Linked DNA regions of Homo sapiens: all the other regions are reported to be linked to region 3. The links are microRNA targets in miRTarBase. Many come from high-throughput screens and were not tested one by one. Region 3 holds a microRNA gene; each other region holds the end of a gene's coding sequence.

Region 1 (5,242 bases), not on the chromosome of region 3:
CTCACGCCTGTAATCCCAGCACTTTGCGAGGCCGAGGCGGGCGGATCACGAGGTCAGGAGATGGAGACCATCCTGGCTAACACGGTGAAACCCCGACTCTACTAAAAATACAAAAAATTAGCCGGGCGCGGTGGCGGGCACCTGTAGTCCCAGCTACTCGGGAGGCTGAGGCAGGAGAATGGCGTGAACCCGGGAGGCGGAGGTTGCAGTGAGCAGAGACAGCGCCACTGCAGTCTGGCCTGGGCGAAAGAGCGAGACTCCGTCTCAAAAAAAAAAAAAAAAAAAAAGTAAATAAAAATAGGCTGGGAGCAGTGGCTCACGCCTGTAACCACAGTACTTTGGGAGGCCGAGGTGGGTGGAACACCTGAGGTCAGGAGCTCGAGACCAGCCTGGCCAACATGGTGAAACCCCGTCTCTGCTAAAAATACAACAATTAGCCGGGTGTGGTGGCGGACGCCTGTGTTCCCAGCTATACAGGAGGCTGAGGCAGGAGAATCGCATGAACACAAAAGGTGGAGGTTGCAGTGAGCTAAGATTGTGCCACTGCACTCCAGCCTGGGTGACAGAGTGAGACTCTGTCTCAGAAAAAAAAAAAAAAAAAAAAAAAAATATATATATATATATATATATACACACACACACACACATATATATATACACACACACACATATATATATATATACACACACACACATACACATACATAATAATAATTGATGAGGTAAGGGAGGCACAGAGAAGTTGAGAAAATTCTCCAATAGCCCTCAGTCAGAAAGTGGTGGTGACAGGATTAGAATTGAGATCGTCTGGATAAGGCTGACTGATGGTATTAAAGTCCTTCATAGAATACATTTCTGTAGTGAATTATAAATGCTCTAGGACAGAGGTTCTTTTTTTTTTTTGAGACGGAGTCTCACTCTGTCACTCATGCTGGAGTGCAGTGGCGCGATCTCGGCTCACTGCAAGCTCTGCCTCCCGGGTTCACAGCATTCTCCTGCCTCAGCTTCCCAAGTAGCTGGGACTACAGGCGGCCGCCACCACGCCCGGCTAATTTTTTGTATTTTTAGTAGAGACGGGGTTTCACCGTGTTAGCCAGGATGGTCTCCATCTCCTGACCTCGTGATCCGCCCACCTCAGCCTCCCAAAGTGCTGGGATTACAGGCGTGAGCCACCGCGCCCGGCCGACAGAGGTTCTTAACTTGGACCTCATGGGTTGGCTCCAGGGGGGTCGGATTGTGCCATTTACTGTTTGGCTTGCAGCACATTGCTTATTCAAGCCTACTTTTCAGTTGTGAAACAAGGATGACATAATAGAACCTGTCTCTTGCAGGGAGGTGGTTAGGATAAGTGAATTTCAGCTGTCTCAGACAAAAGGCACAGGACATGCTCATTTAATCTCTTACTATATTAGCTAGTTCGCAATTTGCTGAGCCCAGAACCAGCCCCAAAATACACCAATCAAGACGTTGGTAAGTTTGTCTGGTTTATTTGCAGGCTGTAGAGATGATATCCCAGTCCACGCACACTCCCATGCACACGCACACACATACTTCATCCACCTGAATTTGCCCGACAAACCCTCCTCTGAGTCATAGGGACAAAGCCATACTTGGCAGTCCTCACGTTACTGGTTACATTAGATTTGGTCTTTCAGAAAGAAGATGGTTGAAGTCCCAAGAAGCTGAGCCCTTAGCCAGAGAAGTAAGAGTCCTAGAACCAAGAGCCACAACCTGAAATAGATGCAGACTGCCCCCGCCCTCCTTCCAGGGACAACTCTTGAGACCCTCTCCTCCCAGGAGTTGAGTCTCAAGAAATGAAGGGACTGATGGGGTTTCCCAGGACACACGAGCCCCCACCCCCATTCAATGAGAAAACCCTCTCTTCTGCCATTTCCAGAAGCTGGGGCCACACCTGCTTGCTCTCCTCCCTTAAGGAGAATTCCTGCAGTCTTGTAGAACTGTGGAACTTACTGAAATAAGCCTGACTGGTTCTGCCTTCCTCTCTGAGTGAGGAACAGGGACACTGAATATGATGGGTAGTGAAGGAAGGCTTTATCTTCCTCAAAGGTCCCAGCCTGTCCCAGAGAGGAGAGGCAGTGAGGAGGGGTGAGGACATCTAATGATCTTGGGGAAAAAAAAAACAAAAAACAGGGCAGGGTGGGGGTAGAAGTAGGATTTTCCATTTACAGGGAGGAATGTTTTGCTGGGGTTTAAACTTCAACTAGGCCTGTGTGCATTTGAAGCAGATCCTTGAGCTCAAGATCAGCCAGTCATGGCCAAATAACCTCATTCCTGAACTGGTTGAAACCAGTGGGTTAACCCAACCTGGCCATTTCCTCATGCCTTACCTGTTTTCCTCCCTCAATCTGCTATCAGAGGTGACTAAGGAGCCGCAGGGAACCCACGTTGGCTCCAACCACCAAGACCTCCCAGTCCTGTCCACTTAAGGTGTTGCAAAGGCTCTGCCAAGACTCTCACCCAGTCTTGGGCCCATCTAGGCCCCCAGGACTGCAGGGAAGTCACCCCATACCTCCCCCTTCCTAACATTTATCTCATTGTCATTGTCTGGGTCTCACTTTCCTATTGGACTCTAAGTTCCATGAATCTGTCCATTTCATTATTGGATTCTTAACTGTTGGCCTACAGCAAGTGCTTAATAAATATGTTCAGTGAATAACTGTCTCAGTCCTGAGCAGGTAGGGTAAGAGACTTCAGAACACAGGTGGGGTTAAGGCTGAACACCCTGATCAGCCAAGATGGGGCTGACTTTGACATCTTCCTGCATGAATTACAAGAGGCAGCTTCAGAGGCCTGGTCTTTGCCCTAAGCCTGATGCTGACTTGAAGGCATGGGAGAGGGCGAATCCTGGACCAGGGTCTTCAGAGCAAGTGAAACCCTCTCCAAGTGTTGACCTTGGAGGCTGTCTCTTCCCAGCCCTTCCCTGTTCTCATAACTAACTAAGGCAGCCCACACTGGAAATGAGGTGTAGGCAGGGTCCCTGAACATCTGGGCCCCAGTCCAGGGCACCTCCCTCTGGAGATAAGCCTGACCTTGGGCAAGGCACTTAATCCCTGTGGGGCACCAGTCTCCTCACCTGTGAAATGAGAAGTCTGGCCCAGCTACCCTCCAGGGTGCATTAGGGTTCTAAAATCCTGCGAGTCCATAAGAAAGGACACAGGTGACCCCAGTTCAATTCCCAAGCTCAAGGTTCTGAGAGATCTGGGGAGAGATGAGTTAGACCGTGTATACTGCACATGCCAGGACAACATGGGAGGATGTAAAGCTTATAATAGCAGGTCAATAAATATCTGGTGAATGAGTGAGTCAATGAGTGAATTATGTGAGTAGGGTAGGAAGACAAATGAGAGAAGCAGAGTCAGGTTTCAAGCAGATTGGGGTCAGACAAGCAACCTTGTATTTCTCAGTCTTGGCTTACCAGTGCTGCTGACTTTGCCGTGAGCATTTTACTCCTCATTCTCCCATCCTGGTCCCCTCAGTAACCTCCCTAAAAGGTGGAACAGCACTGAGCTGACCTTTCCCCCAAAACCCCAGGCCTCACTTCTGCCTCCGAAGCCCTCTGCTGCCCCAGTAAGGGACAGTAGGGCTGCACGCTGCCTCTCAGCTGCCTGCACAGGTGTGGCCAGAGAGCAGGACTGGAGGGTTCCTTCTGGTACCTTCTTGAAGGGCTCCCAATGCCAAGCTCCTTTCCTTCCCACCTTCACATCACTGAGGATGAGAAGAGGTGTGGAATGAGTGGGGATCAGCTGGGGCAGCGGGGCCCCGAGTGGCTGTGTCCTGGGTGACACCAGAGCACTGGAGCCATGGCACTGTCCAAGGAAACCCGAAAGAGGCCCTGCAGCCTTGTCCCTACTCCAAGGTCTTCTCAGAGTGGCCTGGGGTCCTCGTCAGAGCCAGGTCAGTGAGCCTGAACTTGGCTTGGAGACTTTCTGAAAGGATGGAGAGTGCTGGTTCCTCCAAGTGAGGGGAACACAGGCTGGAAGCCTCCCTGCCCTGGCCCTGCCCCCTCTAGTTTTTGGTTTGATGTCAGCCCTTCTGCACAGGGAGCGGGGAAGGAGGGAAGAAGAGAGGGAGGGGACCCAAGGCTCAGGATTCCCCGACCCAGAGCCCCTTTAAGGCAGATAATTTGTGCTTTACAAAGACATTGATGAAAACACAAACAAACCCTCAATGACCAAACAAATGAGAGAGAGAGAGATCACAGTGTGTCAAGAAGGGCAGCAAGATCGGGAGGGAGGTATGGGGTGGGAAGGCTGGGGAGTCCAGGCGGGGTCCTCAGGGCAGGCTAGCAATGTCTCTCTCTGGAGGGGGGCCAACTGGCTTGGGGCTGCTCTCGTTGGCTTTTCCTTCAAACATCATGACTCTGGTTTGGAGATGGAGAAAAGAAAAAAAGAAAGAAAAACAAGATTAGGATCCTTCCCTCATCCAGGGAAAGATCATCCCAGCCTCATGTCAGCAGGGTCCTCAACAGAATTTAAATCTGTTCTCCAGTGGGATCCTTGCAGAAGCCCAAGACAGCAGCTCCAAGGAAGGGGCTGCTAGTCCCATTTTACAGAGGAGAAAATGGAGGCGCAAAGTGGTGATATGACTCCTCAGAACCACACAGGCGGTCCAGGGCAGAGGCTGGGTACGACTCCAGGCTTCTGACTTCCAGGCCATACCCTTCCCTTAACCACACTGCCTGGAGGAGGCTGAGCCAGGCTGGGCCACGCCTCTGCGCAAAGATCTTCAAAAACCTGCCCACTGCTCTGAGAGTGGTGTCTGGGGAGTAGAGGGTAGGGGCTCAGCGTATAACCTCTAGGGCAACTGCCTAGATTCAAATGCCAGCCCTGCTACTTCCCAGCCGGGTGGCTCAAGCAAGACACTTGACCTCTCTGATCCTTGGCGTTTCTCCCTGGAAGTGGGGTGCTAGAAGATCTGGCCAGATTGGACCGTGGGCTCATGGGCCAGGTACTCAGTCTCCTTGGGCCTCAACAAGCTCCTTTGTAAAATGAGACAGGTATATTTTACATTCGTACTTTAAAAAAGTGAATCTTATTTCATAAAAGCCAAGTAAGTGTTATTTTCTGTTTTCTTTTTTTTTTTTTTTTTCTTTTGAGACAGAGTTTTGTTCTTGCCGCCCAGGCTGGAGGGCAATGTCACGATCTCTGCTCACTGCAACCTCCGCCTCCTGGGCTCAAGTGATTCTCCTGCCTCAGCCTCCCGAGTAGCCAGGATTACAGGC
Region 2 (5,242 bases), not on the chromosome of region 3:
ATAATTTCTTCAAACATCATCTGTCCATCTATCCATTCACCCATCCATCCAAGCACTCATTCCATCAACAACATTATTGTGCATCTACCATGTGCCAGGCGCTGTGCTAAACACATGAAGTCTTTGCCTTTATGGAGTTTACAGTCTAATGAGGGAGTGAGACAGTAAATGGACTACTAAGTGAATATGAATTCAGGAAAGTTCCATAAAGGTCAGGGTGCTACAGTGGAAAGTCTCAGGGCGAGGAACTTAGGGTGAACAGAACAGAGAACCTGACTGAAGAGGAAGCATCTGAGACTTGGTGAGCGGGACCCAGGCCCAGGAAGGCACAGGAAAGAACATCTGCCAAAGCCCTATGGCATGAAAGAGCATGGTGTGCAAGCCGTCCCCAGAAAGGCCATTTGTCTGAAGCACTGGGAGCTAGAGGAGTGGCCTGAGATCACGTTAGAGTCACCATAGTTTGAGTTTTTAAAAGATGCTCCTGGTGGCTTCTTAGAGAATGACTGAAGAGGGGTAAGAATGGAGGTAGGAGCCTCTAAAAGCTCTTGTGGTTGTCCAGGCAAGAGATTCTGGTGGCTTAGGACCACAGTAGTGGAGGTGGAGAGGGGAAGAAATGGATGTATTTGAGCTATATCTTGGAAGAACTGATAATACTTGCTGATAGACTGGAGATGAAGAGTGAGGGAGAGGGTAGAACTGAGGGAAATGCCTGGATTTCTGACTTGAGCTACTGGCACTGAGAAGAACTTGAAGAGGGAGCTGGTTAAGTGGGATATGATAAAAGTTACTGCTCAGGGCATGTTTAAGAAGACATCTGTGAGAAAAGTCAAGACGGGAGTTTGCTACAGCAGTCTGGAGGTAGAGACCAGTGCTGGGATGTAAATGTGATGATATATTATGTATGTATATATGTATGTACTTTGAAACAGGGTCTCACTCTGTCATCCAAGCTTCAGTGCAGTGGCCCAATCACGGCTCACTGCAGCCTCAACCTCCTGGGCTCAAACAATCCTCCCACCTCAGCCTCCTGAGCAGCTGGCACTACAGGCACATGCCATCACACCCAGCTCATTTTTCTGGTTTTTTGTTTTGTACAGATGTGGTCTCACTATGTTGCCCAGACTGGTCTTGAAGTCGTGGGCTCATGTGATCCTCTGGCCTTGGCCTCCAAAGTGCTGGGATTACAGGCATGAGCCACTGCACCCAGCCAAATGTAATGGTATTTAGAATCATAGAAAGAAATCGCCACAAATCCAAAAACCAATCCCAAGAAACTCACAGCAGTGGAGCAGCTGCCCAAGAAGATGAAAAAGAATGGCCTGAGAGGCAGTGGAAAAGCAGAGACATGAACAGAAGTCAGTTCAAGGAGGAGTGGTCAACTGGGTCATGTTTTGGAGAAGTCAAATAAGGTGAAGACAGAAAGATCTCCACTAGTTCTGGCAATATGAACATAAAGGGTGGCATGAGCAAGAGAACTGTGGCTTAAGTGGTGGCAGCCAAGTAAGATTAGAGTGAAGAATGAATGAACCACTCATAAAGTCCTTAAGAAAACTAAGAATAGAAGGAAACTTCCTGACCTTGATAAAGCATTATCTATCAGAAACCTACTGTAAGCATCAACTTAGTGAGGAACGAATATGAGCATTACCACATTTTATTTCCTCCAGTACTGCGCCAGTGGTCTCAGCACAAGGCAAAAAGGCAATAAAAATAAATGAGATACTATCTGCATGATTCAAATTAATAAAAGGGTTCCACAAGCTGGCTAGATATATAATATCCAAAAGCTATTCATTAGCAATAATCAAATGTAAAAGAAAATAGGAAAAAGGTCTCAGTTGGATAACAAAACTACACAAGACCTTTATGGGGAAAAGCGATAAACCTTTACCAAGGCCTGTGCCAGGAGATGCCCTGGGAAGCGGATTGCTTCAGCTATTGGCGACAATTCCTTCTTCATCTGGAAATTCATAGGCTTGATAAACTATCACTAGTGTTTCTAGAAGATGGTAACATGTGACCTTGGTCATTTCATCCCAGAGAAAGTTTATTATAAGTTACAACAAACGAAGAATATGTAAAAAACAAAATGTTCTGCAAAACATTGTTTTATTATGAGAAATTATACAGGGCTCTTACTTTTTAATATTTTTATGACAGTAGAGGAAGCCTGCTGCTTCTCAGTAAGGATCCCAAACAATAAAAGCTGGACTTGCCTGTTGCCACTAGTCCATTATCCCAAACCGTGGGTAGGCCGCTTGTCATCTGCCTCTCTATGACAGAAAGGGGGATGTATGTGCCACTTCAGCTTTTTAATCAAATGAAGGAAACCATATAAGCAAAGGGTTGAGGAAACAGTGTAGGTACTTATGATACTATTATTTAACATCTAGTATTATTTAACATCTATTATTCAGTGAGCCATGACTGTGCCACTGCAATTCTGCCTGGGTGACAGAGCAAGATGCTATCTCAAAAAAAAAAAAAAAAGGCCGGGTGCAGTGGCTCACGCCTGTAATCCCAGCACTTCTTTGGGAGGCCGAGGCGGGTGGATCACGAGGTCAGGAGATCGAGACCATCCTGGCTAACACGGTGAAACCCCATCTCTACTAAAAATACAAAAAATTAGCCGGGCGTAGTGGCAGGCGCCTGTAGTCCCAGCTACTGGGGAGGCTGAGGCAGGAGAATGGCATGAACCCAGGAGGCGGAGCTTGCAGTAAGCTGAGATCGCGCCACTGCACTCCAGCCTGGAGGACAGAGCGAGACTCTGTCTCAAAAAAAAAAAAAAAAATTTCCCCCCAATAAATGTATAACCCATAAATTCAATTTAATCTTAATTAAAATTTCCAGTGGCTCTTTGATGAAGTTAACAAGAATAGGGCCTTGCCCTACTAGATATCCAGTCTTAGAACAGACAAATAAAGCAATGGAAGTGTTGTGGGGGCATTTTAAAGGGAGAAAATAAAGGATGAAAGATGGCCTTTAAGCTGGGAAGAAGGAAGTAAGGTTTATACACACAGCAGAATATTATTCAGCCTTTAAAAAGAAGGAAATTCTGACACATGCTACACCATAAGGTGGATGAATCTTGAGAACATTATATAAAGTAAAGTAAAATAAGCCAGTCACGAAAGGACAGATATTTATAATTTCACTTATGAGGTACCTCGAGTCATCAAATTTATAGAAACAAAATACACTGGTGGTTGTCAGGGGATGGGGGATGGGAGAATCAGGAGTTATTGTTTCCATGTGTGGTGACTGAAAAAGTTCTGTTGATAAAAAGTGGGGATGTTTGTATAAAAATGTGAATGTACTTAATACCAGTGAATTGTACGCTAAAAAAGGGTTAAGATGGTAAAGTTTATGTAATGTGTATCTTATCACAATTTAAAATTTTTAAAAATATAAATGACAGGAAAATATTAACTGAAGTTAAGGCAACATTTATTTGATTTCCTTATAATCATATTATCTAAGGCAGAAGTGGTGGTTACTTGGCAAGAATACGATTTCTTTTAATGTCTTCTATAGTTGAGTTTTAGCTCAGAAATACATCATATTTCACTGGTTCAAATCTGAGAGAATGTACTTCTAGCATGGGCTCCTATTCATGATCAATGCATTTTTGTGTCACCATGGCTTGATCAAACTTAATCACTGTTTCAATGGCAGGGCATGGCCAGTTGTGGCAGCTGCTCTGAAGGTCACTTGTTTTACTGTGGCCTGGCCAAGTAGAGTAAGGATGGGTCACAGTGAGCTCACTGGTCTCTTCAGGCTGTGCTCTGAATGATGACAGCAATACCTTGGCCACCTCCAATGCAAGCTGATCCAACGGCATATTTTCCACCTCGACGCCTGAAAAAGAAAGCAGTGACTGAAATCTACTCTAATAAAAAATCAGATTAATGAAATAGAACTAATAACATCACATCTGCATTACTCATCCTTATTCAGCTCATCTGCTCAATCTTTTCCCCAGTCCTCAATTTTGGTATAATTACAACAGGCAACAGACTTTGGAAAGCTGAAAGTTTTTAATCAAAAAAAACAAAAAACAAAGAACAAAAACAAACACCAGAAGAGGGAGGCAAACTAAAAAGGAGATGAGTGGATTTAGGGTTATAGAGTAGATTTAGGGTATATGAAACACATACAGAAGCTTGTGTGTGTTACGGGAAAGGAGTGAGAAGAGGAGGTAACTGGATAAATGGGAAGCTGGGGAAGGGGATGAACATTAAGCTCCTTTGATTTATATATTTGATTTATATAGTGTGAGAGCCTCATGGCACCTTAGAAGAAATGTAATTAATAAAGTTTGTCCCTATGAAAGGGCAGATAATTTAGAAACTATCCATGTCCCTTTCATAAAAATTAGACTCTTTTAAAGTACTCCTCACTCCTAATATGATGACTTCGAGAAAATTATCCAGGAATTACTTTTGTATGTGGCAATCACCTATTTCAACTCAGGGAATCATTAAGTGAAATAAGAGTCACATTTCCCCTGGCCTAACAGGGAGTCAGAGTAATTTTTCAGCCTGACTTACTTGGTTTTGTTTGCAATTTTTCTACAGAGCAAAATATTCCAAAAATAGAAGAGCTCCTCCTTCTGGTACTATCTATCAAAACTGAAAAGCACCAAACACCCAAAAGGTTCCTCCTGGAACCCTGCAAGCAGTGAAAAGAAAAACTTAGACCCAAATGTCAGTTTGCTTAGATTTCATAAATTATGGCATCTAGATCAGTACTCACTCAGTACTTTTTTTTTCTAAAATAGATTTATTTTACTCCTGTAACTGGCACTAAAATACAAGTGCCATGAGAAGCAGGGCCTCATTATCTGCTCATGCAGTGAACACAAGCTGAGTGGGGCACACAGTGCACAGAGACTGGACACACAGAGGAAGAGCTTGGTTCTTAAGTGCAAAGCCACTAACAAGGTGACTGACTCATCTATGAGACCAGATGAAAAGCACTGCCCAAGTAACTTGTTCCTGGTAACAGCCAGTGCAGGAGACATGAAGAAGAATGAAAAATGTTGGAGTGTTCTGGGGAAGCCTAAATCCATGCATTTCTATAAAAAACAGCAAATCTGAAATGCAGCTATTTCTAGCAAATACCTTAATTCGTGAACCAGGTGTGCAGTAATTCTTGATCCAGATCCTCCCAGTGGGTGACCCAAAGCAATGGCTCCTCCATTCACATTGGTTTTACTTATGTCAAGATCCAAACTCCTCTC
Region 3 (4,000 bases):
CGTGTGCTGGTGCAGAGGGGGTGGGGGTCTGCGGGCCTGGATCTGTGGACGGGCTCCTAATCCTCTTGTTTTCGGAACCGTCAGCAGATGCGGCTTCCTTTACCTGAATAATCCTTTAAAGGAGTAATAATTTTTAAAAAGGAGCTCGACCTCAGCCAAAGAGGACGGCGCACGAGATTAGGGCTTGGTAAGGAAAAATTAAAAGGCTCCCAATTCTCTCTGTCCCTCTCTGCCTTCCCCTCTACCCCTCCCCCTCCCTCCTCCACCCTCCCCTCCCCTCCCCCTTCTTCCTCATCCCCTGCAATCCGCGCTCGACGCGAGTTCACGCGAAGGGCTGGATTTCCAGGCGGCTCCGCAACTTGCGCGGCGCGGTGTTATTATTCATCCGAGGGTGCTGCCTCCTCAACCTTTGCCTCCTGCGCCGCTCTCCTTCCCCCGGCCGCCGCCGCCAGCAGTGCAGTCCCTCCGGCACGCATGCTCTGGTTCACCAAGAGGGAGACTGATTTTTTTTAAATCATGCTCATCATCATCATCATCATCATCATCATCATCATCACGTTCCTTATCATGGTTATCATTTCCTCCTGCCAGGTGGAGCGACCACCAGCGCCGGCTCGCCTCCTGCGCCTTCCCCAGCGAAGGCAGCAAGCAGTTCGGGCTTGGCCGTGGCGGCCGCTCCCAGGATGCTTCCTGCACCTCCAGCATCCCCCCCCTTATTCATCTGCCTGTGTATTATCTCGATCCTTTTCATTTCAGTAGATCCACTGCCTTTGGTTGGGCCGGCTGAATCGCTGGGGACTGCGGCCAGTCTCTTAAAAAAGGAGAACAAAAAGCCGAAGACCTTGTGTGGCCGCCGGGACAAAGCACCTTGGGTTCGGCGAGAAGGGACGCGCAGGAGCGCTGAACCCAGAACACGCGTGGCCGCTGCGGAAGGGCGTCCGCCCGGCGTGCGGAACGCTGAGGGTATTCGGATTGTCTTTTATTTGTCCCTGTGGCTTGCTTTCACAGTGTCTACGTAGGAGAGGGGTCGGGGTTGTTGGGGTCTCTTTTTTTTTCTGGGAGGGGTAGCTGAATTGTGGGAGACCTAGGTGGACTTGACTTGGCTTTCCTGCTACTCTGCGTCTCCTTCTCAAGATGCGGGGGTTGGAAAGGGGACAGGGGACTCAAGGCTTAGAAAAGAGAAGGAGCCCTCTGCTGCCTGGAGGGCTAAGGGAGTAGAGAGTGGAGATGGAGGTGAGTAGGGATGGGCCAGCCCGAAGAGCACTGAGGAGGAGAAGGGGTCTTCTCCTCCCTCGGGTCCAGTGGATGAGTTTTGCTGGGAATGAGAATTCGGGTGTCTGTCGATAGGAGCGCTGAGAAATTGATGAGAAATTGACATGTCCGTGCACATGCATGAGGCGGCGACAGGATTTGTGTGTAAACAGTGTGGAGAGGTGGAGGAGGGCATGGGGGTGGGGGCTTAAAATGATGTCTTATTGTCCTTTTGGCTTTAGGGACTCTCATCCTCTGTCTCGCCCCCTTTTTTTGACCCGGGGATCCAGCCGCATTATACACGAGTGACCTTTTAAATCTACGTCCACCCTTTACCTGGTAAAGCCCGCTGACAGTTGGGGGTGGGGTGGGGAGAGTGTAGGGGTGCTCTCTCCCTCTCTCCCTCCCTCCGCCTCTCCTCCCTCCCTCCCCCCTGCACTCCTCTCTCTTCCTCCCTCCCACCTCCCTCGCTCCCGCCCTCCCTGCTGCATTTTGCATGAGCTATCTAGGTCATTAGCATTTTAGCGTATGCAAGACTTGACAAAGCTGATGAGGGGCCAGATGGGCCTCGCTCTTATGGTTTTTTTTTCTTCTTCTTCTTCTTCTTCCTCTCTCTCTCTCTCTCTCTGTCTCTCTCTCTCTCGTCTCTCTTCCTTTCCCCCCTCCACCACTTGGGACCTGAGCGAGAGGACTGCAGCAGGCGAGTTCCGGAAGGCTGAATCCCCAGGTCCCAGCCCCGGACCGCGGCAACTCGCCCCTGCGGCACGCCCGGCCCGGCTGCGCCCCCACTCAGCGATGGAGGTAAAGAGGCGGCGGCCGCGCGCCCTGCCCCGGCTGCCGCTGCCGAGTCCCCGCTGCTCTCCTTGTCCTTCGCTCTCTTCTTCCTCCTCCTAGTCCCCTTCAGTTTCCTGGGCGAAGCAGAGGGCGACATGGGTGGGTGGGTTGCTGCGCTGGGGCGAGGTGGGGTCGATGTTGTTTTTTCATTGTCTGGAGCTGCAGGGGAGGCGAGGCGCGGGGAAAGGGGCGAGGGGAGCCGGGGTAATTAACACGGGGGAGGCACCCCTCCGTCTCCCACTTCCACCCACACCCCCATCCCTCCACCCCCTCCGCTTTGCAGGAAAAAGCCTGGATGCGAAAGGATGGGGGAGAACAAAGAGCCTTTGGAAGACGTCGCTGTTATCTCATTGTCTGTGTGATTGGGGGAGCTGCGGCGGGGAGGATGCTGTGGTCCCTTCCTCCGGCGTTCCCCACCCCCATCCCTCTCCCCGCTGTCAGTGCGCACGCACACGCGCCGCTTTTTATTTCTTTTTCCTGGTTTTCTTATTCCATCTTCTACCCACCCCTCTTCCTTTCTTTCACCTTTCCTTCCTTCCTTCCTCCTTTCCTTCCTCAGGAGAAAGGCCTCTCTCTCCGTGTTCACAGCGGACCTTGATTTAAATGTCCATACAATTAAGGCACGCGGTGAATGCCAAGAATGGGGCTGGCTGAGCACCGTGGGTCGGCGAGGGCCCGCCAAGGAAGGAGCGACCGACCGAGCCAGGCGCCCTCCGCAGACCTCCGCGCAGCGGCCGCGGGCGCGAGGGGAGGGGTCTGGAGCTCCCTCCGGCTGCCTGTCCCGCACCGGAGCCCGTGGGGTGGGGAGGTGTGCAGCCTGTGACAGACAGGGGCTTAGAGATGCAAACAGACTCAGGGAGAGAAACAGAAGCTGATTCTGTGACAGAAGCAGATCTGTGCAGCACAGATGCGGTGTGCGTGGGGAGGGGGTCGCCTGGGAGCGCATTGCGGAGTGCTTGTGTGTGCAGATTTTTCTCTGGGCTCAGGACTCATTGTATGTGGGTCAACACCTTCCTCCGTGACTGTGTTTTTGTTCTGAGCTGAGTTTTTTGGTTTGCCCTTAAAAAAATAATAATTTGGCATCCAGAGACTGGCAGACTGCCTCAGGGCCTGGACTGCGGATATATTGTGTTCTGCTTGAGGTTTGGGGAGGAGGGCAGGCGGTAGGAAGGGAGAGGGGGAGCTGTTTGTCACACTTTGCTGTAGAGCTGAGAGCACCTGACAAGCTTAAGGAAGTCGTTGGGCTATGTGGACAAGAAGGAGCCAGCTCCCAGCGGGTTCACAAGCTCTATCGGAGTTGAAAGCGTGGTCATGGCTCTAAGGAGCACCTCACGCCCTCCCTGTAGCTGTTATTGCAGTTTCAGGCAGAGATCCAGGAGCTGCAGAGGAAGGGAGAGGCACAATAACCTACATGGACCCAAGGGAGACATGTGTTCCTTTAAAAATGTGAACAGAAGGAAAAACAGAATGTGTGCAACTGGGGGTCTGAGGAAAGACTGTTTTGAAAGAGGCTGTCAGGGAATGGAAAGGGTTAAGCTTTTCATCCTGAAGAACCTGCTTCCCAAATCAGGCCTTCCTCCCATCACTAGACCCTGAGCAGCAGCTGGTCCTAGAGACCCCCCTCGTACTGCGCTGCCACAGTCTCATCCCATTTCCAGCTCTGTATTAACCACCAAGCTGCAGCGGATGGGGCAAGACCTAAGCTCATTAATTTCCAGGTGGAGGAAATGGAGGAGGGGCAGGTCCCTGCAGTAGAGGGAGGAGCAGAGAAAGGAGGCCAAGAGCTGGATCCTTCTGCCCAGGAAGCCTGCTGCATCCCTTCCCCCGAGCATGGCAGAGGCCTGGCTTTGCAAGGCCAAGGCCATAAGGGATGCTTAGGAGATTAATTTGATTCCTGACACAATAATCAAGCCCT
Region 4 (5,024 bases), not on the chromosome of region 3:
ACTCATGGTCAACTACAGTCCAAAAATATTAAATGGAAATTTCCAGAAATAAACAATTCATAAGCAGTGTCCCGCCCTGGATAGGAAGCGTCCCTCCGTCCAGCTACCTGCTCATGAGTCACTTGGCCACCATCTCATTGATCAGCTCGACCATTGCAGTGTCCCTGTGTTTGTGCTCAAGCAACCCTCACCCCCTACTTAACAATGGCCCCCAAGGGATGCTGGCAGTTGGGATCTGCCAAAGAGAAGCTTCCTTCCATGCTGACCGCCTGCCCTGGACAGCCAGCCCACCCTGAGCTGGGCACCCTGCTCTCCAGGGGCCGTGTTAGATGGAGCTGGGAGTGAGGGTCCTGGAGTGACCGCTGTCCCAAACTGAGGCTTGTCTCAGCACAGGGTCCCCTGGGTGCTGTGGGGTGGGGTGTGTTGAGCTACAGGCGGCAGATGTCTGCACATCGTGGGAGCCCCCTTCTAATGGCAGAGCTGTCCCTGGGAGGGAGGGAGGGAGCTGCTGTTGCTGGAGTAGAGGGGCAGGGCAGTGAGGGGTGCTTTGGAGGGAAGTCCCTGCACGGTCCGGGAGCTGGAGGTCACAGGAGCTGCCCCTGAGCCCTGCTCTTGGTTGGGAGTATGGCTGTGATGGAACCGCATGGGATTGGAGGACAAGGACGGAGTGGAGTCCAGGCACGTCCACTCGGCACCTGCAGGATCGCAGGCAATTCCATCCCTTTCCTGGCCTCTGCTTTCTCATCTGCCTGCCCAGCCTCACCTGGCAGTTGGGGTGGCCTAAGGGACTCCCCAGGGGAGGGCCCTGAACCAGGATGGCGCAGCCCCAAGGCCTAGCAGCTCTGTCTCTCCAAAGTCTATGCTGGGTGCCAACTGTTTGCCAGGCACTTCTAGATGCTGGGGTTTGGAAAGAAAACCAACCAAACTCCCTATCTTCCTGAGTAGACAGATAAAAACCCACAGGGGTGCACACAGCAGGCTGTGGAAGCTCAAGGAACCAAAGAGCAGGCAGAAGGACAGGCAATGCCAGGGTCCTGGCGAGGGGGCTGGAAGGCGGCACTGCGAGGAGGCGGTGCTCAGGGTCAGGTCTTCAGGGAGATGGCTGGGGGCCGAGGGCACAGCACATGCAAAGGCCCTGCGGTGGGAGCAAGCGAGGAGGCAGGCAAGGAGGAGAGGAGCAGGGCATAAACCAGAGGCCAGAGCAAGCGGGGCCTGTGGCCCTGGAGGCACAAGTAAGGTGAGTAGGGTGAGGCCTTTAGCTTTTGCTGAACGAGACACAGGGCAGCAGGGTTTTGTTTGTTTTTTGAGACGGAGTTTCGCTCTTTCGCCCAGGCTGGAGTGCAGCGGTGTGATTTCAGCTCACTGCAACCTCCACCTTCCGGTTTCAAGCGATTCTCCTGCCTCAGCCTCCCAAGTAGCTGGGATTACAGGCGCCCGGATGGCAGGGTTTTGACAGCGTCGCCATCACACTAGTTGCTGGGTTGAGAAGAGACTGCAGCGGGGCAGGGTTTGGAAAGAGCAGGTGGGTGGCAGCTGCCGGAATCCAGGGGAGATCATGGGGCTGGGACCAAGGTGATTTTGGGGTGGGCGGTGAGGCTTGTCCCATCCTGCTTATGTCCTGAGGGCGGAGCTGATGGATTTGCCAAGGACCAGGTATGCAAGGTGGGAGAAAAGAGCCAAGAGTGACTCCCAGGGTGCCAGCCCCAGCAGCCTGAAGCTCCTCTGAGATGGGGAGGTGGGAGGGACTGGCCTGGTAGAGACTGTGCAGAGCGTGAGACACCCGCAGCCGTACAGTGGGCCTGGGGGTACAGACAGAAGCCAGGGGCAGGTGAAGGCCGGCTGCGGGAGATCTGAACACAGACCTGGGCCTTCAGTGATTAGGTAGAAGAGAAGCAAGTCTGGAGCAGAGACCAGGGAGCAGCCACATTGGCAGGAGTGAGGTCCCAGGAGCCTCCTTTGGCAGGGGGTGTGGCCAATGTGTCCTCTGGTTCTGAGAGGTCCAGGTGATGACCGGGAGCACCCCGGGGATCTGGCCATGGGAGGTCACTACTGACCTGGTGTTCCAGAGGTGCAAAGGGGTGGGGAGTCGGACTGAAGAGAATCCAAAGAGGACAGGAGTGAGCCACGGATGCCGAGTGTGGTCTTTTGAGTGGCCCCCAGGAGGGCTCAGGCAGAGCTGACTTGAAACCTGCTCCCCTCCTCCCAAACTATTCTCCCCAGGGCAAGCCATGAAGCGGGACTGTGTGGCAGCCCTGCATGCCCTCCACCTCTCTGTCCCCTGGGGCACCGGACCCCACTTTGGCATTAGACCCCAGCCTCTGGCCACAGCTAACTGCCCAGGGGTCGGCCCCGACCCACTTGGCCAATCAGAGTCCCCCGTGCAATGCCAGGAGCTAGGACTCAGGGGGGCTGATTCCCCACCTCTTGTAGGGCAAGGTGTAAGCTCAGCGTGGCTGCAGGAGCGCCTGTACCCGCTGCTGGGGGAGAGAGACAGCGGTGATGTTGCCAGGCTGAGAGGCAGGAACCCATGAGGGAGCAGAGGGCACCACCTTGGGCTCTGCACAGTGACAGACCTGCTGGGTTTCCAAGACTTTCCACCCTCAATCCTAGCCCTAAAGGGTCACCCGCCGCCTCTGAGGACTGGGAATCGGGGGTGAGTGAGTGGAGGGCACTGAGCTCTCTCCCTGTTTCCCTCCCTCCATCCCTCCCTCCTCAGGATGGGAGAAGACCCTGATTTCCAGCCCCTCCAACGCCCACCTGGCTGCCCTGGGCACTCCCGGGGGCCTCTCCGCAACGCAAGGACACCAAAACCACAGGGCTTTGAAATCATCGATCGAGTTTAATACATTGTAAAGAAGGAAAACTACATTGGCGTATTTAAGACAAACACTTTTTCTCTATCCTCACTACCCACTGGACGGTCCTCCTTGGTCCAAAAAAAACCTAACAATCTCAAGACACATCGGCAGCTACCCCTCCCGGGTCCAACCTTTCAGATCCTCCCATTACACTGTTAAAACATGTAACTCAATCCATCCGCGAAGAAAACCAAACCAACAGAAAAGGAAGCTGAAGACATGGACATCGCAAGCCACGCGGTAATGCATACTTGGCACAGAGTAGCCAATATAGAAGACGTGTGCCTCACACGGTTCACTTTGTTCATCAATAAAAGAATATAAAAATCTTGTTCACCCAGTGGTAAGTGTATTAAAATAGATCTGTATCATACAGCACAGTTTCTCCCGGAGTCGTGAGAATGACAGGAGGGACCGTGGCAGCTGCGGGATTTGCCGGCCTCCTCGCTCTGCACCTCTGCGTGTGTGCATGCGTGTCTGTGGTCGTGGCCGCGTGCGATGCACACACGCGTGTTCAGTGCAATTCGGCACCATGTGATATGCTCGGGGTGGGAGCCCGTGGCTCCTGGACGCTTATCCTGTTGTGCTGAGTCCCTCAGGACTGGGATGTGGGAATCGGGCAAGGGTGACAAGCTGCCACTGCCCACCCTGGATGCAGAAGCCCTTGGCAGCAAGTCTGGTCCCCGAAGGCCGGAACCTCCCGAGCCACCGCCCTTTCTTTCCTCCCCAACCCTCCACCCGGCTCGTAAAAAACCTGCCGGATCTTCCAGCTTGGCCAGGCTTCCCGAGGGGAGGTGTTCCCATTTGTACCTTGAAGCAGAGACTACTAGAAGCAGAAAGGAAGTCAGCCAGAGTCCCCCCAACCATTCACATTAAATATCTCACAATAAAAACGCCATACAAAAGTGTGAAGTTATTTTTTGGCATAGTGTCTGCACTGGCAAGAAGGGAGGAGTGGAATACTTATCGGCTCTTCCAAAGGAGACAAGAAAGGGCTTCAGTCGTTAAGTTGAATGATTCAACCCCAAGGAGAAAACCTGCCAAATGCTGCCCCCCACAACAGGGTTGCAGCTCCACTCTGCCCAGAAACTCCATGAGAAAAACGCATCAACGGCAAACTGAGTCCAAGAGATTGGCAAAAGGAAGGAGGCAGCCTTGAGGACCCCAAAGACGGAGCAGGAAGGGCACAGGCTCTGGCGGGGATCACTGCAGCGTCCCGGCGCCCAGATGCTCACCTCCGACAGTGTCTTTCAAGTTAAACAGCTGCAATTCGTAACCCTAATAATACTGACAGAAAGGGGCCCAGGTGGTTCTGCAAAGGCGACGGAGTGCCCCAGGCCCGCCCGCCCACCCCAGGGGGACCTCCTAGGAGCGTGGGGCATTGAGGAACTACCTAGATCCACTACCCCGCTTCTCGTCCCAACTACCGCTACCACTCAGCTAGTCCATGTGTTCTCAGCTCGCCCTCCCACAGGACACCAATAGGCGGTGCCCTCAGTGGAGACTGCGTTCTGGGGGGCGTGCTTGTCCCCTCCACAGCCTCAGCCTGCCCCTCCAACGGGCCAGAGGGAGGCCGTGGAGAGCAGGGCCTGGAAGCCAGAGGCCCAGGCAGCCCCGAGGTGGCCGGGGGGAGACTGTGTGCCCCAGCCTGTCGTACCCCACCTGGCTCCTAGGTACCCCCTGTGAATTTGGAGGGCACAGGGCCGCACCCCCACCTGGTCCTGGCTCTAGGCCTCTCGCCCAGCTCTTCCTCCCTCCTCTCCTCTGTCTGGTTAATTTTTGTCTGAAATTCATAGTGTTTATGAATTAAGGCCGACAGAACCCCCAGGCTGTGTAAGCAGGGTCCCAATAACTTTCCGTGGGTATGAAGACTGGTCCCTCGGGGTCAGTTGTGGCCCTGGGGGTGCTGGACGGTGGGGTGTGTGGCTGCCACTGAGGGCTTGGTCCAGGGCCCGGCCAGCAGTGGGGCAGGGCTAGTGGTCGTCATGGTGACCTGGAGCAGCTGCTCGCCCTGTATCAGTCTCAGGAGGGCCCGCAGGCGGTCCAGGGATGACTGGGTGCCCCTCTGGCGGGCCAGCAGGCTTGTCTTCAACTCCAGGCATTTCTGTTGGGGAGAAGGTCAGGGGAAAGGGTCTCAGTATTCGGCTCTACAGCCATCCTGGGGCA
Region 5 (5,242 bases), not on the chromosome of region 3:
CCCGGGCCGCCGCCCCACTCAGCCGGTCGCCGGCGCGAACCTCCTCCAGCAGCATGTCGACACTGGCGGCCTGCAAAGCCCCCCGCCCCGCCCCAGCCCGGCGCTGTCAGCGCGGAGCAGCCGGCGGGCGCTGGCCCGAACAGCCCTCCCGGGGCGCGGCCGCGGTGCACCCGGCTGCGCTGCTCTCCCGTCCCGGCTCCCCAGCCCGAGACCCCGGCCCTCCCGGCGGGCTCCTCCCCCTGTCAGCCGGAGGACGGCGAGGGGCTGGGAGCCGGGCCCAACCCTCGGCCGCCCGCGGGGCCCTGCCCGGCGCCCGCCCCTTGGGGGCCGGGTCTCCCCCTAACTCACCCTCCCTCCTCCTCGCCGGGCGGGGTCTGCTCTGAGCCTGCGCCGCCGCCGCCGCTGAGGCAGCCGCCAGGGGGCGGAGCCAACGTGCTCCCGGCCACGCCCCGAACGCAACTGATTTGTTTTCTTACAAACTCGCTACTGTGTAGCGGCACCGCGTTGCCCGGCGCGCGACCTTACGGCGTTCCGCCCACAGGGCCTGCATAACCAGTGGCTGCGCGTCGCCGGGGAAACTTCGGGCTCGGCGTGAAACGCGTCGCTCCTGATTGGTCAGAGTGTGGCAACCGGTGGACCGCCGGCAATGGCGGGGTTTTCGGTTTTCAAATGAACCCGGCAGGCGGGAAAGAAGGCTGGTTTAACTGACCCAGGGAGAAAGGTCAGGGGCAGGGTCGCGCGGGCTGCTCTGGGACCTCGGCGCCTCCTGAGGGAAGGGAGGCAGGGCTGGAGCCACCCAATCCGAGGTTCCACTACTAATAGACATTCATTGGCCCTTACTACGAGCTGGGCGCTTTATTTCATTCATTTATTCATTCACTGTGTGCAGGGAGCGTCCTGGGAGCTGGACGCGCACATTCAAACAACCAAATAATATTAGATAGTGTCAAGCACCGTGAAGAAAGGGAAACGGAGAGACGGAGTGGATGAGGAAGGGATCACCCTGCCGGGCTCAGACTGAGCCAGCAGGAAAGGAGCCTGCAGCTGCCACGTGGGAAGGCCTGAGAGGACATAGTCGCAGCCAGACAGGGACTCAGAGGTCTTCGTTCAAATATTTACTTAGCACCTCCTAGAGGGGCCCGAGTGGAGAGCACGCCAGTCGGCCCCTGCTGCAGGGACACCTATGGTCTGGGGCCAGAGACAATAGTTAATTTTTATTTATATATGTATTTATTTTTGAGTCAGGGTCTCACTCCTGTCACCCGGGCCGGCGTGCAGTGGCGCGATCACAGCTCACTGCAGCCTCGACTTCCCGGGCTCAAGTGATCCTCCTGCCTCAGCCTCCCGAGTAGCTGGGACTACAGGGCGCACCACCACGCCCGGCTAATTTGTGTTTTTAGTAGATATGAGGTTTCACTATGTTGCCCAGGCTGGTGTTTTTTGTTTGTTATTTGTGTTTGGCTTTTAAATACAGATTTTTTTTTTTATGTTGGGGTTCTTGCTTTGTTGCCCAGGCTGGTCCCGAATTCCTGGGCTCAACGGATCCTTCTGCCTTGGCCTCCAAAAGTGCTGGGATTACAGGCGTGAGCTCCTGCTCTCCGCCAATAGTTAAATCTTTTTAGAGTGGTAGAGGACTGACCAGATGAGCCATTGAAACGGAAAGGCAAAAAGCCGGGCGCGGTGGCTCACACCTGTAATCCCAGCACTCTGGGAGGCTGAGGTGGGCGGATCACGAGGTCAGGAGTTCAAGACCAGCCTGACCAACATGGTGAAACCCCGTCTCTACCAAAAATATAAAAAATTAGCCGGGCGAGGTGGCGGGCGCCTGTAGTCCCAGCTACTCGGGAGGCTGAGGCAGGAGAATGGCGTGAACCCCAGGGGGCGGAGCCTGCAGTGAGCCGAGATTGCGCCACTGCACTCCAGCCTGGGCGACAGCGAGACTCCGTCTCAAAAAAAAAAAAAAAAAAAAAAAAATTAGCTGCGCCTGGTGGCACGCACCTGTAATCCCAGCTACTCAGGAGGCTGAGACAGGAGAATCGCTTGAACCCAGGAGGCGGAGGTCGCAGGAGCCGAGATCGCGCCATTGTACTCCAGCCTGGGCAACAGAGTGAGACTCTGTCTCAAAAAAAAAAAAAAAAGAAAAGAAAAGAAAAGAAAAAGAAACGCAAAGGCAGGGAGGGCCTCCCTGAAGAGGTGACATTTGATTTGAGACCTAAAGGTGAGGGAGGGAGACTTGTGGTTATATGGGGAAAAGCACACCAGCTGGGAGGCACAGCAGATGCTAAGGCCCAGAGGTGAGAGCGTGCCTGGTGTGGTACAGAGCAGGGGAGAGCAGGTAGGTGGGGTATCAGGATGGCAATTGTGCAAATCAAGCCATGGCTTTTTTATTTATTTATTTATTTTAATTTTTTTTTAATTTTTTTTTTGAGACGGAGTCTCACTCGCCCAGGCCAGAGTGCAGTGGCGCTATCGCGGCTCACTGCAAGCCCCGCCTCCCGGGTTCACGCCATTCTCCTGCCTCAGCCTCCCGAGTAGCTGGGACTACAGGCGCCCGCCACCGTGCCCGGCCTTTTTTTTTTTTTTTTTTTTTTTTTGAGACAGAGTCTTGCTCTGTCGCCCACGCCCGACCAGGCCATGGCTTTAATAAGATAGGAATGCCGAGCGAAGTGGCTCACACCTGTAATTCCAACATTTTGGGAAGCTGAGGCGGGTGGATCACCTGAGGTGGGGAGTTCGAGACCAGACTAGCCAACATGGTGAAATCCCATCTCTATTAAAAAATACAGGCCGGGCGCAGTGGCTCACGCCTGTAATCCCAGCATTTTGGGAGGCCGTGGCGGGCGGATCACGAGGTCAGGAGATTGAGACCATCCTGGCTAATACGGTGAAACACCGTCTCTACTAAAAATACAAAAAATTAGCCAGGCGTGGTGGCGGGCGCCTGTAGTCCCAGCTACTTGGGAGGCTGAGGCAGGAGAATGGTATGAACCCGGGAGGCGGAGCTTGCAGTGAGCCGAGATCACGCCACTGCACTCCAGCCTGGGCGACAGAGCAAGACTCTTGTCTCAAAAAAAAAAAAAAATTAAGCCAGGCGCGGTGGCTCACGCCGGTAATCCTAGCACTTTGGGAGGCCAAGGCGGGCGGATAATGAGGTCAGGAGTTTGAGACCAGCCTGACCAACATGGTGAAACCCCGTCTCTACTAAAAATAACAATAATTAGTGGGGCATGGTGGCGCACGCCTGTAATCCCAGCTACTCAGCAGGCTGAGGCAGGAGAATCGCTTGAACCTGGGAGGTGGAGGTTGCAGTGAGCCGAAATCGCGCCACTGCACTCCAGCCTGGGCGACAGAGCGAGACTCCGTCTCAAAAAAACAAAAACAAAAACAAAAATTAAGCCAGGCGCAGTGGCTCATGCCTGTAATCCCAGCACTTTGGGAAGCCGAGGCGGGCAGATCATGAGGTCAGGAGTTCGAGACCAGCCTGGCCAACATGGTGAAACCGGTCTCTACTAAAAATACAAAAATTAGCTAGGTGTGGTGATGGGCGCCTGTAATCCCAGCTACTCGGGAGGCTGAGGCAGAAGAATCGCTTGAACCCGGGAGGCGGAGGCTGCAGTGAGCCGAGATCGCACCACTGCACTACTCCAGCCTTGGCGACAGACTGAGACTCCGTCTCAAACAAAACAAACAAACAAACAGACAAAAAAAGCCAGGCGTGATGGTGGGCGACTACGACTATAATCCCAGCTACTCGGGAGGCTGAGGCAGGAGAATTGCCTGAACCTGGGAGGCGGAGGTTGCAGTGAGCCGAGATCGCGACACTGCACTCCAGCCTGGGCTACAGTGAGACTGTCTCAAAAAAAAAAAAAGAAAAAAGAAAAAAGGAAAAAAGAAGCGATGCTAACACGCGCCCTCTAGCGGCTACTGGGGGAACAGACCGTGGAGGTGGGAAGCAAAGGCAACAGCAGAGGACCAGGGCCATGACCCGGGACTGAGGAATGGACTGACACGTGTTACCCACTCCCATTGCAGCACTTCAGTAATGTCCCCAAACAAGCACATAGGCAGCGGCTAGATTCATCTTTTTAATGACATCCTAAAATTCAGAGGAGGGGCCAGCGGGACCTCTGGGCTCAGCGGCTGTGAAGGAGGGACCCGCAACACCCGCTAAGGCAGGTAATTGCAAGAAGGCACTCGCGAGGAGGACTTCAAGCCCCTCTTCTATTTCTTCATATAAAATCAGGGGGATGGGGAAAGCTCCAAGGGCGAGGGAAGCAGAGAGAGTTTCTCTCCCAGCCTATGGAATAAGGAAGAGGTGAGGAAGGGGCGGGTGCTGGGAGCAAGAAACTGCCAAGTCCAGGACCTGCCCTCACACAGACACACACAGCCCGCACCTGCCCTCCCTCTAAAATCTGCATCCGGGGCTGTAAGGAAGCCCCGTGTTCAAGCCCCCATCTCTTCTCCCTTCTAGCTGGTACGAAGTTGGTAATCTGCAGAGAAAGAATGAGGAGGGGCCATCTCAGAAATGGGGAGAGGGGGGCCGGGCACGGTGACTCACGCTTATAATCCCAGCACTTTGGGAGGTCGAGGCAGGTGGATCACTTGAGGTCAGGGGTTCGAGACCAGCCTGGCCAACATGGTGAAACCCCATGTCTATTAAAAATACAAAAATTAGCTGGGTATGATGGTGCACACCTGTAATCCCAGCTACTAGGGAGGCTGAGGCAGAAGAATTGCTTGAACCCAGGAGGTGGAGGTTGCAGTGAGCTGAGATTGCGCCACTGCACTCCAGCCTGGGCGACAGAGTGAGATTCCATCTCAAAAAAGAAAAGAAATGGGGAGGGGTGAAGGAAGAGGGACAGCCTCCCACAGCCCCTCAATTCATCCCCTATCCCAGCACTCATGATCAACAAGGCTAAGAATGGGGCTAAACACAGGTACTGTAACCATAGAAACAAGGCAGTTTCCAGGCAGCAGATGGAGGTGCTATATGTTCAGCCCCTTCTCCAAACTCGCGACCACCCTAGAACTGACGCTGACAACTGTCCCTGCTTTTTTTTCCTTTTTTTTTTTTTTTTTTTTTGAGCCAGGGTCTCACTCTTGCCCAGGATGGAGTGCAGTGGTGCAATCACAGCTCACTACAGCCTCGACCTCCTGGGCTCAGGCGATCCTCCCACCTCAGCCTCCTGAGTTGCTGGGACTACAGGTGTGCACATCACACCTGGCTAATTTTTATATTTTT
Region 6 (5,242 bases), not on the chromosome of region 3:
CACGAGGTCAGGAGTTCAAGACGAGCCTGGCCAACACAGTGAAACCCCATCTCTACTAAAAATACAAAAATTAGCTGGGTGTGTTGGTGGGCACCTGTAATCCCAGATGCTTGGGAGGCTGAGGCAGGAGAATCGCTTGAACCTGGGAGGCGGAGGTTGCAGTGAGCGAGATCGCGCCACTGCACTCCAGCCTGAGTGACAGAGCTAGATTCCTTTCAAAAAAAAAAAAAAAAAGGTGTCATGTTGGCCCTGCTGGGTTTCACTGGGTTTCAGACTTTCCTGGGGCCTGTTTCACCCGTTTCTTTTTGCCTATTTCTCCCTTTTGGAATGGGAATGTGTACACTATGCTCGTTCCCACCATTATATCTTGGAAGTAGATAACTTGCTCCATAACTTGGAAGTAGATAACTAGCTCACAGATGAGACTTTGATGCTGCAATGAGTGAAGACTTTGGGATTATGGGAGTGGAATGAATGTATTTGTATGTGAGAAGCACATGAGTTTTGGGGGCCCAGGGACAGAATGCTATGGTTTGCATGTCTCCTCTAAAAATTCATATGGAAACTTTTAGTTCTCAACATGACGGTATTGAGAGCTGGGGCTTTTAAGAGATGATTGGGGGCTGGGCATGGTGGCTCATACCTGTAATCCCAGCACTTTGGGAGGCCAAAGTGGGCGGATCACGAGGTCAAGAGATTGAGACCATCCTGGCTAACACGGTGAAACCCCGTGTCTCTACTAAAAATACAAAATTAGCCAGGTGTGGTGGCGGGTGCCTGTAGTCCCAGCTACTTGGGAGGCTGAGGTAGGAGAATGGTGTGAACCCGGGAGGCGGAGCTTGCAGTGAGCTGAGATTGCACCACTGCGCTCCAGCCTGGGAGACAGAGCGAGATTCTGTCTCAGAAAAAAAAAAAGATGATTGGATTGGATCCCGAGGGTTCTGCCATTCATGGATTATGGGTTATCACGGGAGGGGAACTGGTGGCTTTATAAGAAGAGGAAGAGAGACCTGAACTGGCAATGTTTGCACACTGGCAATGTTTCCTGTGCTGCAGAGAGCCCCCACCAACCAGACGACCACCACCAGATGTGGCCACTTGACCTTGGGCAAAATTTTCAGTGTCCGTAACTGTAAGAAATAATTTCCTTTTCTTTATAAGTTGCCCAGATTCAGTATTCTATAATAAGCAACAGAAGACAGATTAAGACAACTACAAACTTTCAATGTTGGAGGTAGCTGCAGAGATCATGGTAACTGACTTTTTCACAGATGAGGAATTTAAGGCCCAGAGGAAGGTAATATCAGAATTAGTGACCTCCGCACCCAGCACACACACAGGACAGGGGAAAGGGTGGGAGAGATGCATGCACTGGACCCTGGATAGATTCAAGATACCCTTGCTGGGGGAGGGTGGGCTGGCCCGTTAGTTCTAACTCAGTCTTCTCAGTGCCACCTCCAGCCCCTGTGGTCTTTACGGGACCCAACTCTTATCCATCTTCCTTGGTGATGGAGGCATGTCGCCAGCATTAAGATCTCCAGCACAGATGCACGCCCCGGCCTCTTGATATTATTAGTGGCTTCCTGGTTTCTCCCTGCAGCCTCCACACCTCAGGCAGGAAGTGACTTCAGAGCAGCAGGATGCAGGTGGCTCCGGAGAAACTTCATGAAGTCACTGGTTCCTACACAATGAGCAGGAAGGCAAGGGCAGGGAAGGGGACAACGAGGACCATTTAAAATGTCTGGTGGGAAGGGACAGTGGAATGGTACAGAATCCAAGATGTTATCCAGGAGGAAGAGCTCTCTTCCTCGCTCCCCGAGTCCCCCAAGGCAAGAACCCAGGACACAGCAGGCAGCACAGAGAGGCTTCTTTATTCCAAGGATCTGATGTTGCAAGATCTAACATTTCTACCCCCAGGCATTCTCCACCTGCCCATCCAATCTGCTAAATAGAAATCATGATTCCTTCTTATAGACTCCTCCGCCTTCCCTTCTTCCTTCTTTAATTCTGCAGTGGGGCCATGGGGAGAAAGAGGGAAGAGGGAGAAGAGTAGCTTTCTCACTAGTCCCCAGGCGACAGCCACTAGAACTGACTTATTGTTGAAGTTCTACCCCACAAATTCAAAAGTGCTTCTTACTTTCTACCCTCGTCCCATAATCAGATAAGCCCCAGGGCAACAAGGGGCAGAACTATCAATCAAGGCTTCAGCGCTTCTTCTAACATTTCAGAGACTCCACCCAGCCAAGAGGCAACCCTGTTCCTCACTTTCTACCTACCTGGCCTACACCAGAAACTGCACCCCTCAACCAACCTCTTAATCCTACTTGAAACTTGGTCAACTAGAACAGGCCTTTGGCCTATGGGCTAGTCAATCTTTTACATCTGTAATGCCAACAATAATCCCAACCAAACTACAGCAAACCCAGAATGGAACTCAGCCCCTTTTCTTTTCCTATGGAAGGTTCTAATGCATTCACTGGTTCCAGACAGGAATGCAGGGATGGGAAGACCAGGTCACAGACCCAGCTTTTAAAAGGTAAGGTTACCAAGCACCATCCCTTCTAGAGGAAAAGAAGGTTCTGGCATCTGGACACTTGCCAGAAGATGTCCAAAACCCACTAAAGGAAGAAGGGGCTCAACTCAATAGAGAGAACCCCAGGTAACATTCAAACCCATATGCCTCTGTAGTAAAGGATGGGTTAACACTGTTTACCATCTAATCAAGCTAAAGAGTTTCATGATTCTTCCCTAGGCCATAACATTCATAGAGACTGGGCAGAGTCAGAAAAGGTCACATCATCTCTGATAAGGAATGTCTGATCTCTCCCCCATGGAGCGATCAACTCAGTGCTAAGAACAGGCCCCCGTGGGAGGATGATGGACTCCACTTGAGCCCTGGTGGGTCTCTACCACTATAGATGGATACAGCAGAGCCAAACCCAAGTGACCAGATTAATGGGACATTTTAGATTCTGGACCATCTTGCAGAAAAACCTGCCAGCCTCCACTTGGAGTGATACGGAATCCAGATACAGAATCCCCCACACCCACAGCCTCCAGGAGGCATTTATTATTACTTCCATTTTGGGCTCAACATAATGGTTCCTATCACCCTTGAAGAACAGAGAAATGTCTGTATCCATTTCTAGACTGCTAGAGAACCTACAACATCCAGAATACCAGAGAGGGTTCCTGACCCAATTCCACAATCCCGCATGTTCCCAGAGCTGCCCTAGAACAAATAAAGGTTCCAGACCTAGAATTACAGGGGCAGAACACAGAGAACCCCTTTTTCCATTTTAAACAAACTAACAAGCAAACAAACAGGAGAAAGAACAATTCTAAAGATAAAAGTTATGACAGAAATAATATAAAATACCCAAGCCAAACGAGAGAGCCAAGGGCTAGTAATCTCTGCCAGCAGAGCTGTGATCTCACCTTCTGTGTTTCTGGTCACTTTTAATCACACTTGTGGAAGAGGGGAGTGGGAAATGCAATCGAATGAAGGCCCCGGTGCCACCCAAAGGCCTCAATAAATTATATTTACAGATAAACTGAATGCAATGGGGGCCACAGGTGGAGGGCTATTCCCTTAGGGAGACCAGGACTCCAATCTCTCCCCTTTCCCAGCCCCTAGCTAGCTCTCTCCTCAGAAACAATCTGGCTTGTGGGGAAGAGGTTTTGACCAGCAAAACAGAGGCAGATCTAGCCAGGATCTGCCACCCCTGCTCTCCCCAGTGAGAAATTAAGAGGGTGGCAATTTCTGATACCAAAGTGGCCTGGCACACCCCTATGCCCAAGCCTGATAGGGAAGCAAGGCCTGGGCCTGCAGCTTTCCCACCCGCAGGAAGCAAGTGGGGCCTGGGCCTGCGCTCAGCTAGGGCCCCCCGAGAATGTGGTAGTGCACTTTGGTGTTGGTAGCAGCTCCGTGTTTCTGGCGCAGATGCAGCCGCAGTTGACTCTTGTGCCGGAAATGCAGGCCACAGGGGTCGCACTGTGGGAGGACAGCCAAGTCAGGCCCTGCCCCATCCACAATCACCTTTTAGGTGTTGAGCCGGGCGGCCGTCCAGCTCTCCCAGGTGGGAACTATCCAGCGGAAGATCAGCTCTTTGACTCTCACATCCTCCCAAATCCTCAGGGGTGGCTGAGGGGATAGGCCCCGCCTTATTTAGCAAAGGTTTTCCCACTTCTCAGCTCCTCTCTGAGAAAACAGTGCTCAGCCCAGGAGCATCACTTCTATACCTGCCCATCCTGACTCCCAGCCTCCACCCCTTATTTGCTTGGACTCTTCCGGCCACCGCTCATTTCTAAGAGATCTAGGGACAGCCAGGCCCGCACCTCTCAGAGCCCACCCCTAGGCAAAGGAGAGGTAATTCTAAGGCAGTGGGCAGGCCAGGTTGGGTACCCACGTGGTAAGGCTTCTCTCCGGTGTGGATGCGAACGTGGCTCTTGAGGGTCTGCAGGTGGCGGAAGCGGGTTCCGCAGGTAGGGCAAGGGTAGGGCTTCTCCCCGGTGTGGATCAGCACGTGCGCCCGCAGATGTGCCACCTGGGAGGGAGGAGACTTCAAGTCCTGCCTCTGGGAGGAACAGAACCCTCCCTATTGGCCCACCCCACCTCTTGCAGGTTTGCCTTGGAAGCCACTTGGAGGCTGGCTCCGTACCTGTACAAAGCGCGAGCCGCACGTCTCACACTTATACGGCTTCTCTCCCGAATGGATGCGGCTGTGCGTTTTCAGGTTTGCTGGCCGGTTAAAACGGGCTCCGCAGATTGAGCAGTGGTAAGGCTTTTCCCCTGGAGGCAGAGAACATGGGAGATCAGGGACTTTGCCCTAGGACAGCTGTGGGCTTGAAGGCCAGGGCCCTCTCTTCCCCTACCTGTGTGCACTGTACGATGACTGGCAAGGTTGCCCTTGTAGCGGAACGAAGACCGGCACAGCTGACACTTATAGGGTTTGTCTTCGTCCCCAGGAACCAAGGAGTCCAGCCCCGATGAGCACCCTGCCACAGCCTCACAGTTCTGGCAGCTGAAAAATTCACTTCCTGGGAAGGGGAATGGGTGACGGCAACCATAGTTATTAATGAGGGCTATCTAGGTACTACTGAATCCTCAAACCACACAGTAGCAGGCTTTCTGTTTCCCAATTTATTGTTAAGACTTCTGGGGCTGGTTTGACTTGCTCAAGGCCAAGTAAGAAGATAGTAAGATGAGCCAGATCTGACTGCACATCTGTCTGACTCGAGT

The links. The annotated mature microRNA hsa-miR-124-3p reads UAAGGCACGCGGUGAAUGCCAA and lies in region 3 at 2,702-2,723, shown strand. An mRNA with a match to its seed (bases 2 to 7 or 8) in the 3' UTR can be bound and repressed. Matches are read on the target gene's strand: a 7mer-m8 pairs with bases 2 to 8, a 7mer-A1 pairs with bases 2 to 7 and ends in A, and an 8mer does both.
Region 1: miRTarBase lists AIF1L as a target of hsa-miR-124-3p. Seed matches in the 3' UTR shown: 7mer-A1 at 4,132-4,138, 7mer-m8 at 3,058-3,064 and 7mer-A1 at 2,959-2,965.
Region 2: the mRNA of ACAA2 is a reported target of hsa-miR-124-3p. Seed matches in the 3' UTR shown: 7mer-A1 at 3,477-3,483 and 7mer-A1 at 3,437-3,443.
Region 4: the mRNA of PHF21B is a reported target of hsa-miR-124-3p. The part of its 3' UTR that is shown has no 7-base or 8-base seed match.
Region 5: miRTarBase lists AP1M2 as a target of hsa-miR-124-3p. Seed matches in the 3' UTR shown: 7mer-m8 at 4,188-4,194 and 7mer-A1 at 4,169-4,175.
Region 6: the mRNA of BCL6B is a reported target of hsa-miR-124-3p. The part of its 3' UTR that is shown has no 7-base or 8-base seed match.

Annotation. Positions count from the first base shown.
Region 1 is chr9:131,119,374-131,124,615 of GRCh38, reverse strand. It overlaps AIF1L (allograft inflammatory factor 1 like), which reads right to left. Exons shown (of 6, transcript NM_031426.4): 6 at 1,472-4,381. The coding sequence ends at 4,294. Among named protein-coding and RNA genes, the nearest start is that of NUP214, 3.6 kb to the left of the region's middle.
Region 2 is chr18:49,780,074-49,785,315 of GRCh38, forward strand. It overlaps ACAA2 (acetyl-CoA acyltransferase 2), which reads right to left. Exons shown (of 10, transcript NM_006111.3): 9 at 5,124-5,242; 10 at 2,091-3,858. The coding sequence ends at 3,774. Among named protein-coding and RNA genes, the nearest start is that of ACAA2, 31 kb to the right of the region's middle.
Region 3 is chr8:9,902,122-9,906,121 of GRCh38, reverse strand. MIR124-1 (microRNA 124-1) reads left to right here and starts at 2,650; the gene lies at 2,650-2,734. MIR124-1HG (MIR124-1 host gene) reads left to right here and starts at 2,793. Exons shown (of 3, transcript NR_024281.1): 1 at 2,793-4,000. It overlaps LOC124902057 (a long non-coding RNA gene), which reads left to right. Exons shown (of 4, transcript XR_007061170.1): 2 at 760-963; 3 at 1,494-1,590; 4 at 1,935-2,052.
Region 4 is chr22:44,878,343-44,883,366 of GRCh38, forward strand. It overlaps PHF21B (PHD finger protein 21B), which reads right to left. Exons shown (of 13, transcript NM_138415.5): 13 at 2,820-4,962. The coding sequence ends at 4,744. Among named protein-coding and RNA genes, the nearest start is that of ARHGAP8, 130 kb to the left of the region's middle.
Region 5 is chr19:10,568,599-10,573,840 of GRCh38, forward strand. AP1M2 (adaptor related protein complex 1 subunit mu 2) reads right to left here. Exons shown (of 12, transcript NM_005498.5): 12 at 4,073-4,490. The coding sequence ends at 4,468. It overlaps CDKN2D (cyclin dependent kinase inhibitor 2D), which reads right to left and starts at 381. Exons shown (of 2, transcript NM_001800.4): 1 at 1-381. The coding sequence starts at 55. RefSeq lists a silencer at 1-647.
Region 6 is chr17:7,026,255-7,031,496 of GRCh38, reverse strand. BCL6B (BCL6B transcription repressor) reads right to left here. Exons shown (of 9, transcript NM_181844.4): 6 at 4,876-5,040; 7 at 4,662-4,792; 8 at 4,410-4,547; 9 at 1,853-3,994. The coding sequence ends at 3,878. Among named protein-coding and RNA genes, the nearest start is that of BCL6B, 5.8 kb to the right of the region's middle.